2 separate regions of the Homo sapiens genome follow, and region 2 is linked to region 1. Evidence: fine-mapped expression QTL. A gene starts in region 1. The other region holds a variant in brackets. All regions are shown on one strand. Distances are between the middles of the regions.

The links. PIP is the estimated chance that this variant, and not a neighbour inherited with it, causes the effect. A credible set is the group of variants that fine-mapping cannot tell apart.
Region 2: its variant is the best candidate, but not a certain one, in a credible set for the expression of TSEN15 in monocytes after interferon gamma (Fairfax 2014, PIP 0.73).

The regions. Positions count from the first base shown.
Region 1 is chr1:184,048,915-184,054,301 of GRCh38, forward strand. It overlaps TSEN15 (tRNA splicing endonuclease subunit 15), which reads left to right and starts at 2,816. Exons shown (of 5, transcript NM_052965.4): 1 at 2,816-2,976. The coding sequence starts at 2,842. RefSeq lists enhancers at 1,735-2,670, 2,423-2,532, 2,593-2,722, 2,601-2,895.
Region 2 is chr1:184,120,062-184,125,448 of GRCh38, forward strand. LOC102724830 (a long non-coding RNA gene) reads left to right here. Exons shown (of 4, transcript XR_426875.4): 3 at 904-1,189; 4 at 1,726-3,902. Among named protein-coding and RNA genes, the nearest start is that of TSEN15, 71 kb to the left of the region's middle. The variant CTT/C (reference allele first, on the strand shown) is at 2,655.

The DNA.
Region 1 (5,387 bases):
CCTCCAGGATACCAGACACTGAAACTCTCCTCTGTTCTCTAGTGGATTTCACTCTAGATTGTCACAATAGGTATTTTGATTCTGTACTTTAAATACTGGGTTGTCTAAGTGTTCCCAAATCCTTTGTGTTCATTCTTAGCCATTCACAATCACCAAGACCTATTTAAAAATTTACATTAACAGGGAAGCTAACAGACACTCCCTTTTCATTCTTCAACTCTTTTGAAAAGCACGTAATACTCATTCTTGAATGTATCATGCTTTTTCTAAGCAACAGTATTTAATCTATTTGCCAAAGGATGGCATTTATCTGTTGCTTTTTTGGTTTATGGTTCTTTCCATACCCCCAATTATTTTTTCTTGAACATAAGCTGAAATTCTTCCCCTGCAGATGTTTGAGGCTGGTTCATATAGTCCCTAATCCCATTGGATATCCTTACTGATTTATAAAAGTTTCCCTCTACTCAGATTAGCATCAAAATACTCTTAATGCTTTTAAAAATGCCATCATATGAACTGATTTGGATCTTTAGGAGTCAGAGAGATTTATTCACTTCCAATCACTTGAATTCGTGTCAGTGTTTCATGCTTCAATGACCCAATTAATTTCAGTGCCATTTTCTTCTTTCGGGCTTAGCAGCTGCTTTGTGGTGGCAAAGGTTCATTCAAATGTAATGTATTTGAGGGCAACATATGAATCTTCATGTGTGGCTTTACATTTCATTCAATAATAGATGCCCTTCTTTTCCCTGTGTATGATGTGTTATTTCTTTTGATGCATTCAAGCTTTTCTCTTTATTTTTTTGACTTTCAATAGTTTTATTACAATGTAGACTTCTTTGTGTTTATTTTAGTTGCTATGTATTTAGCATTTTGTACTAGTAAATGTGTTTTTCATCAAATTTGGGGAAATTCTGGCCACCACTCTTTCTTCAAAAATTTTTTCTGTCCCTTTTTTTTTCTACTTCTGTTGTTTACATGCATGTTGGATTGTCTGACATGTAGCAAATCTCTGTTGGTCTACTCACTTTTTAAAGATAATTTTTCTCTTTGTTGTTTACTTTTAATAATTTCTATTGCTCTATCTTCAAGTTCCCTACTTTTTCTTTTGTAATTTTTTTTGGCTGTTAAATTCACCCAGTGAATTTTTTATTTCTAAAATTATAATTTTCAATTTTCAGAATTTCCATTTGGTTTTAAAAATCTTTTTTTTTCTTTTTCTTTGCTGAGATTTTCTATTTGTCTCCTGAGATTTTCATTCATTGAAAACATGTTTTACTTCATTGAGGATAGTTATAATAGTCACTTTAAAATCCTTATCTGTCAGTTTCAATATCTGATTCATCTCAGGGTTGATCTCTAGAGTATGCGATCCATTTCCTTGAATTTCATATGTCAGATAGTTTTGGATAGTACTCTGGACTTTGTGAGTGTTAAGTGGAGAGTCTGGATTCTATTATTCTTCTCTGATGAGTGTTATTTCCTTTGTATTAGTAGGTAATTTTCCCGGCTAGATTTTAACTGAAAACTCTCTCCCTTTTGGAGACAGCTCTGGTCTCAGTTCAGATCTTTTGTTTTTAACTGAGCTGCTGTGATTCTGTTTTGGGTGGTTCAGGATCTCTCAGAGATGTGGGTTGACAGTTTGGGGATCCACTCTCTGACTCCTTCCTTGGGATTTCTTAATCTCTTCAGAATTCAAAATTTTCTGTCTTCACTTTTCTGCTTCCCCAGACAAGAATAACTGATAAGTTTTATACATGCATCCCTGGTACTGCTGAGCCTGACTTCTGGACTGCACTTTGCCCCAAGCTAAATGCCAAAGAGAGGAGAATTTTCTTGTGGAGTTCTTGATCTTCAAGCAAGCTTGCCCTTCCTACCAGTCTGCTGTTCACATTCCAGTATATTCAGCTTTTTGTATTGTGTCCAAGTGTAGTTCCTGATCTTCAAGCAAGCTTGCCCTTCCTACCAGTCCACTATTCACATTCCAGTATATTCAGCTTTTTGCATTGTGTCCAAATTGTTTTCTGCTGGGGGATGGTCCACTAGGGTCTTAGTCTATCATGGTTGAAAACAGAAGTTATGTCCTGCCTGGGACTTTGGATTTTGAGTCACCCTTGTCCTGGTCAATGCGATAGCCTCCTAACCAGTCTCTGTTTGTGTCCTTGCTCCCTCCAGTCTATCCTCAACATATCAGTCAGAGTGATCCTATGAAAACGTCCAGGAGCCTCCAATAGCTTCCCATTTCACTCACAGTAAATTAAAAAATACTTAAAATGTGCTACTCTGCCTGTTTGAAACTCCTCATCCTTGGCTTCCAGATCACATGCTTATGCTAGTTTGTATCCTACCTTTCTGAACACTCGTTCAGCAACTCGTGTTTCCTCTAATCCTGAAACGTGGGTCCACCCTGAAAGTATGGTTCTACTTTAAAGTTCTATGTCAGGGCACTGAGTAAGGCCTTTCCCGTCCCCAGCAATCAGAAACCAGGACCCCACTGCTGAAGGCAAAGAGGACGTATGTATCCCCCAACTTTCTCAGAGAGTTATCGGCAGCACTGACTTAAAGAGGATTAAGAGCTTCAGGGCGCAGGCTACTCTTTAATATTTTTCACGTTAGAATTTGCTCAGATTTGAATAAACGCAGAGCGAAACTAGAGAGCGTTCGCGCAGGTTCTAGCTACCTTGGTCAGAAGGAGGGGCTGATGCAACTTTCCTCCCAGTTTCTGAGCCCTCTCGCACTGCAGCTGCGAGCCTCGGGGAAGCGGAACCCACAGGCGCGCGCGCCGCTGCTTCTGGCCGGGCGCGGGTCGTGGTGCACCACGGGAGCGCCGCACCGGCCGGCATGGAGGAGCGCGGCGATTCCGAGCCGACCCCCGGCTGCAGCGGCCTGGGTCCGGGCGGTGTTCGCGGCTTTGGCGACGGCGGTGGAGCTCCTTCGTGGGCCCCTGAGGACGCCTGGATGGGCACTCACCCTAAGGTCAGGAGGCGCGAGAGGAGCAGGGCGCCGTCCAGGCCCCTAACCCAGGCAGAACACTCCCAGGCAGCTCTCTTTCTTTCTTCCTCAGTGGGAGACTGAGGACGCGCGCCACCCTCACCGAGGGGGACCGGTGTGCACAACTGCCAGCCTCAGGCAGCATCGGTTTTGTTTGTTTAAACAAGTTGCACTATCTCAATCCCCCAGCCAAAGCCATTTTGGAACTGAGAGCCAGACAGTAACTCCGCCCCTCTCAAGCCGGAGATCCCTAATAAGCGCTCCACTAGTTTTGCTGTCTAGGTAAATCCCCTTTGGGGGATAAATTTATTTAATCCTCACGGTAACCATGCAAGACAATTTGTGGGCGATGGATAAGATCTAGGGGTCCATAGTGATAAAGATTTAAGCACAGTCACGTTTACACTTAGCCTTGGGCCCAGAATGCATCTTTATTTTGAAAAGGTGCAGATTCCTAATATTTCAGATTTCTTCGAAAGTTTGAATAGGTTCTTGCTCAAAGCAGAGCTACTCACATTTTGCGTGTATTTTTCTAGATTAGCAGCAGGCGAGATCAAGATAGTCCTCTGCTTACTTCTGCTTGAGACATTACTGCCTTGTACAAGTACGGTTCCAAGCAGTGAATAGACAGTGAATGGAGATGTGGGTTTTGTAAGAATCTCAAAAACTAGTCTCTACGGTACTTTAACAGAATTGCACTCTTCTGCTAGAGAGCAATAATTCATAATCATCTAAAAACAGCCAAGAAAAAATTTGAAGGTATAAGTTTGAAGAGTTAACCTTTTTCAGCTTCTCTTGCTTAATTTTATCTTCCTACTCTGTCCCCTTCATCCTCCCAAAAGGTGAGAAAAAGAAACAATAGCATGGAAATATTATTTAGTGCCCTTTTAGGGAAACAATAGCATGGAGAGGCAGCATATTGGTTAGGCGCATGAACTCAAAATCAGACTCAGTTTAAATCCTGATTCTGTCACTTATCAACCTTGTGATTTGGGACAAGTTGCTTGATCTTATTATGCCTTAGTTTCCTCACCTGAAAAATGGGGATATTAATAGTCCATACTTACTTATACGGTTGTTACAGGATTAAATTAATGAATATTTGTAAGCCATTCAACATACAGAAAGCACTATATAAGTACTTAATAAGCGAAACACCAGTAACAACTTTTTAAGACTTTATCTAGATTTGGTGGTGTTATTCAGTTTATATACTTGTAGATTGTTTTCTTTTTCAAGTTAATGGCTGTATACACCTTGACCATCAAATCTCCCCTTTTGATTTCTCTTCTTGAAGGATCAAATTAATTTTTAAAAGAAAAAGAACAAGTAATAAAATAATAGGGGGTATTTGTTTTTCCAATTTCACCTTTCTGTTAATTTAAAAATTATGTAGTTTCATCCAGTAAAATGGTACCAGATTTATTATCCCCAAACACACTTTTATTTTATTATTCTCCTGCTTAGAAATCCTCAGTGTTTCCATACTGATAAAATCACATGTTTAGCTTGACCACCAAAGCCTTGTAACCTGGCTCAAAATTATGTTTTGGGTGTTATTTTCAAAACATGTTTGAAGTCGACAACTAATTAACCCCTGTCCTCCTGAACCTGTACAGTTACAGTGAAGCTGATGGGAGAATGTGACTTTAGACCTGTCCCCATGCAGGTCTGCTAATAATTCAACTCAGCATTAGCCCTGCATATCCACCTAGTCGCTGGCATAGCTGGGCAGCCTCAGAATTCTCCTGCAGGTGTAGGCCCCTGAAAAGTATTCCCCTTATGCTGACCAGTAGTCTGAAAGAAGCAGCTTTCTCTAGTTCCTTGTCAATTCCTTTTAAAAAATCTACTCTTAAAGTGAGAAAGAGTGGGTAGAGAGGCTAGGACTGATACTCTAGCAGATTCTCTCCATATACAAATAAGAGGCTAGGGAAATACACAGTACCCACTAACATGTCCCATCACAAGTTTTATTAAAAAGGTTTCTCTATTGCTGGCAGATAGGTTTCTTTACAGGCCCTTGAATGTATGTGGCTTAATCCCACCTTTGTGTAATTACCTGCAGTATTACTCTACTTCTCCACTTACTTAAATCATAATGTTCTTCAGTGCTCAACTTGTATCCCATCCCACCTCTGCTATAAATCTTTCACCAGTCCCTCTGAGTAGAGCTCTTCTGACCTGCTGTGTCATGTTTTTTATTCCATTTACATGGTTTTTAATCACTTACAGTCATATATTGTTATTTGCCTAACAATTTTAAGTGTGCATGTATTTAACAATTGCAAGTTCTTTAGAGACAGAGATAAGATCTTATATTGCCTTTTAACTTCCACTATACCTAGAAGAATTTTATAGATTATATATGCTTGATGACCACTTGATGATTGGAAGAA
Region 2 (5,387 bases), 71 kb after region 1:
AGTCTCTCTTCTCTGGATGACACTACTTCTGTTCCTGATCACACTGTTCTCCCAGTTCTGGTTCAGAAACACAGCCATCTTTGAATCCACCCTCCCTAGAGAGTTGGTTGTAAGATAAATTCACATGTTTTCTCAGGTTAGCTTTTGCTCTTCCAGCAAGAAGAGCATCACTATCACCCATAGTTCAATCCTTTTCATCTCATGGGGTCTGAACCACATTCTGGAGCTTTCCTGACCAGCATCTTCTCCGTTTGTCCTGCAGCTTCTTCTTCCTACAATGGCTCTGCCATATTGAAATATAATTCTTTAGCTTAAACTCTCTGTGATTTTTATTGCCTCCTAAATAAAGTTGAAATTTACTAAACTCAAAATCTGGTGTACAAGTCCTTCTATAATCTTTTCCCATACTATTTGTCTAGCCTTGTTTTCTATTAAGTCTTTAAAAACAATTTTACTACTCACAGGGCTGATTTACCTATTAGATACAGGAAGTACAGCACCTAGGTCCCACAATGCTTTTAGAGGTCCAGGATCTTTTAATTTCTTTTTCAATCAAAAGAAAAAAGAACACAATCCAAATTGTATTGTATGCATAATTATATTAACACAGTTGTAAAACATAATTTTAATATTTTTTGGACAAAGATACCTATGAAAGCAAAAGTGTCAAGTCCCATGAAAGTCATGTGACTTTCCCCGAAATAGAAAATATAGATTTAATAAATGAACTTTGGTGAAAGATTTAAAGACAAGTAATAAGGTATGCACTCATTAAATGTAAAATAAATAAATAAAATCATCAACCCTGTCTCAAAAAATGTTTAACTTTCATTTGTTCGTTAATAACTCAATTACTCACTCATTCAATCAACAAATATTAATTGCACTCTTACTATTTTTCAGGCACTAAACAATCAGTCCTGGTCTCTGTTATCAGAGACTTTTGATGCTACCATTGGAGTCAGACAAGCAGACAAACATCAACAAAATGATTATAAACTATGACACACTATGATGGGAAAGAAGGAGGCTGACAGAGAGGACATTGGCAGGAAGGAGCCCTACTGTAGATGTGGTGGTCAGAGAAGGGCCTTTGTGAGAAGCTGACACATAATCTCACAGTTGAAGTTGTGAGAAGGAGCTGGTCCTCCAGAGAGAAGTAGGAAGAGCGCTCCAGCAGAATCTCTGGGTGAGACTTGGACATCTGTGTTGTTGCTCTACTTTCTGGGTACATCTGATGAAGGAGGAGCCCCTGCTGTTGGTCTCATCCACAAATACAGTTTAAGCTCTTCATTTCCGTGGTTTTGTTCATGCTGCTCCCTTGCCCTAGAATTCCTTCTCTTCTGCCTCCCTTTCTCTATCTTTCAAGCCATACTCATCTTCTAAGACCCAGTTCAAATGCCACCACCAAGCCACTGTCTCTATGCCAACTCCTCTGGCCAGATGCCTGCTCTCCTTTAAAGCCCCCACTCTAATGCTTAGCAGTTGTCATCCCCTACCCTCTTCTTCCATATGTTTTATCTCCACTACTTGGTGGCAATTTCTTAAAGGTAAAGACTGTGTTTTATGTCTTAGCATTGCTTGAACAACCTCCACAGTGACCTTCACACATTAGAAATTTAGTAAAAATTTTCTGGATACATGAAAAATGAATGAGTCATGATTCCAAGGTAGACTATGTATTCACATCATATTCTTGCAATCTTTCCCTTATTTCCTTTGCAGACAAGTGCAGCTACGACTGCTGCTGGGACCGCGATACTGTGATGAGACTTTGCATATTTAAAAGGATGTCGAGAGAGGAGGAGGAATGATAAATGAACTCAGGAAGATGTGATGTCTTCTGTGATGACACTAATAGATGGAATGCAGAATTCAGCTCCAATACTTAGGGTTGGAAACCAAACATAAACAAGCAAGCAAGGAAAATGAAAAGGAATGTGTGTGTGTGTGTGTGTGTGTGTGTGTGTGTGTGTGTGTAGGTGTGAGAGTATATGAAATACATGAAAAGATAAAAAGTTAGATGCTGCTAAAGGGACAGACATGTAGGAATTTTACATTAGGGTTGTTCTGATTTTCATTTTCTTGCCTTTTAAAATTTAATGATAAACAAGTCTCCAGAGATTTTTACAGCCTGGGAGACCACTGGTAAGACAACAATATAGGTGGTCCTCCAGCAGGATCTAAATCAGAGCCTTCATAGTGGACTGTCGGGCCAGGTGCAGCTGTAGACAATGCATCTTCAGGAGTGGGGTGAAGAAATTTAATGGACTAGTAATGCAACAGGAGGTAGAAGAAAAGTGTTCTCTCACTAAAGCATGGTGGGTGTTTTCAAAATGTTTAAAAAACATTTTTAGGCCGGGCACAGTGGCTCACACCTGTAATCTCAGAGCTTGGGGTGGCTGAGGACCCAAAAGGAGGATCCCTTGATGCCAGGAGTTGTAGACCAGCCTGGTCTAACATAGCAATACCCTGTCTCTAAAAAAAAAAAAAAAAAAAAAAATTAATTAGCCAGGCAGGTGACAAGTGCCTGTAGTCCCAGTTACTCAGGAGGATAAGGCAGGAGGATCGCTTGAACCCAAGAATTTGAGGTTGTGGTAAGCTGTGATCGTGCCATTGCACTCCAGCCTGGGTGACAGAGTAAGACCTCAATT[CTT/C]TTTTTTTTTTTTTTTTTTTTTTTGAGGCAGAGCCTTGCTCTGTTGCCCAGGCTGGAGTGCAGTGGCGCGATCTCGGTTCACTGCAAGCTCCGCCTCCCGGGTTCACGCCATTCTCCTGCCTCAGCCTCCTGAGTAGCTGGGACTACAGGCACCCACCACCACGCCCAGCTAATTTTTGGTGTTTCTAGTAGAGATGGGGTTTCACCATGTTAGCCAGGATGGTCTCGATCTCCTGACCTCGTGATGCACCTGCCTCGGCCTCCCAAAATGCTGGGATTACAGGCGTGAGCCACCGCGCCTGGCCAGACCTCAATTCTTTAAAAACCAATTGTGTTATGCTTTTGGTTGCTGGGTTCTTAGAAGGAGGTTCTCAAGGTGGCAAGTCAGAGACATTCTGTTCTGTCTGTCAGAAATGCAAAATAATGGAGCAAAATTCCAAAGATAAAGTGAAAAATATGGCAATCAGGATAGCAAGAGCTGAGTGAATGGTGTGAGTTTGAGGAGGTGTTTTCGATTAACTTGTTTTAACATTGAGCTGTAAAAAGAAGTTAAGATAGGGAAGGATGGGGTGAAATATTGCCTGGTCTCCAACTGAAACACATGGGCCTGAGATATGGTGAAGTTTTACTAATGGGATGAAAAAGTGGAGTAGGCCTGGTGTGGAGGAGCACAGCATCCTGAGCCTCGGAAGTGATTCAGGTTAAAGGGCCTCTAAGGCTACACTCTCAGAGCCTTGGAAGAGCTACCTGGCTTGAGCTCTACTCATAGCTACTTTTCTATCCCCTGGTTGTCAGCTCTTCAGCCCTTTATTCATTCAAAAAATATTTATTGATGGCCTACTAAATGACAGGCCCTGGGTGAACAGCTGTGAAAAAAAAATGGGCAAATGTCTCTGCCCTCCTGGGATTCATATACTAAAGGGTCAAGAATATAAGAATTTATTAAAAGAACAGTCCATGGAGGAAAAAATGAAGCACAAGTATAATGGATCTATTGACCTGTGTAATGACCCCAGATCAAGACCCTGATCACCCCATTTATTTGGTGCCTGTTATTGTAATGTCTTCCGCCATCTGTTATTACTACTTACCACCTCTCCTCTGAGACGTATGGTCCAAGCCACATACCCTCAAAAAAAAATCTGTATTGAAGTATAATTTATGTACCATAAGGTTCACCTATTTTGAGTGTATAATTCAATGATTTTTAATAAATGTATAGAGTTGTATGGTCTTATCATTACAATCCAGACTTAGAACATTTCTGTCAGCCTGAAATGTTTCTTTGTGCCCATTTGCAATCAATTCTGCTTCTACTTTCAACCCCAGGCAACCACTGATCTGTTTTCCATATCTATAGATTGGCCTTTTCTGGACATTTTATATCAATGGAATCAAACAGCATAAGTTGCGCATTCCTAACCCCCAAATCCAAAATGGTCAAATTTGAAAATTTTCAAGCATGACATGACACCACAAATGAGGAAAGAAAAGATGCCTGACCTCCTTACATATGCACACCACAAGTGGAAAATTTCACACATAACCTCATTCACATGATGAGTTGCAGTCAGTCAAAATGCAGGCATGCAACACACAGTTTATTCAGCCTTCTCAAGACAAATAGACCCACCCAGCCCCCATCAGCTGCAATACATCTTTTCTACCCAATGCCCAGATTCCCCCATGCAAGCACACTCACAAAGGGTAATAAAAATGACACACGTGCAGGCCGGATGTGCCAATAGCAGGTTCCCCATGATGCCCCATGGGGAGCCAAGATGGCATGTATTACTCATTGTGTTTTTTTGCTTATTCTCTGCTCTGTGGTATAAAGATATTGTTGAAAATGTCAAAAAGGTCTGCATATGGGTAATAGTAATAAGAAAAAGAGAACACATTTATGTTTGTCTGTAGAACAGATACTGAACAGCAGTCTAAGTGTGAAATGTCTTATGGAAGAGTATGGTGTTGGAATGATCACCATGTATGAAAATAAGGATAAACTGTGGAATTTTTATGCTTAAAGTGATGAGCAGAATTTGATTAAAAATAGGAAAACACTGCATAAAGCTTAAAATGAAGATCTCGATTGTGTATTGAAGGAGTGGATCCATCAGCGTTGCAGTGAACACATGCCACTTAATAGTATGCTGATGGTGAAGCAAGCAAAGATCTATCAGAGTGAACTGAAAATGGAATGGAACTGTGAATATTCAACAAGCTGGTTGCAGAAGTTTAAGAAAAGACATGGCACTAAATTTTTAAAGATTTGTGGTGATGAAGTGTCTGCTGATCGTGAAGCAATGGAAAAATTTATTGACAAATTTGCCAAAGTCATCACTGATTAAAATCTGACACCATAACAAGTCTATAATGCTGATGAAACATTACTCTTTTGGTGTTATTGCCCCAGAAAGACACTGACTATGACTTATGAGATGACCCCTACAAGAATAATTGAGGATGCCAAGAACAGAATAGCTACTGGGATGTGCTAATGCAGCAGGCACATATTGGTATATACTTGCTGTGATAGTCAAAAGCTTACATCCTTGCTGTTTTCAAGAAGTGAGTTTCTTACCAGTCCATTATTATGCTAACAAAGAGGCATGTATCACCAGGAATATCTTTTCTGATTGGTTTCAAAATATTTTGTACCAGTAGCTTTTGCTCACTCTAGGGAAGTTGGACTGGATGATAACTAGAAGCTTTTGTTATTCCTTGACAA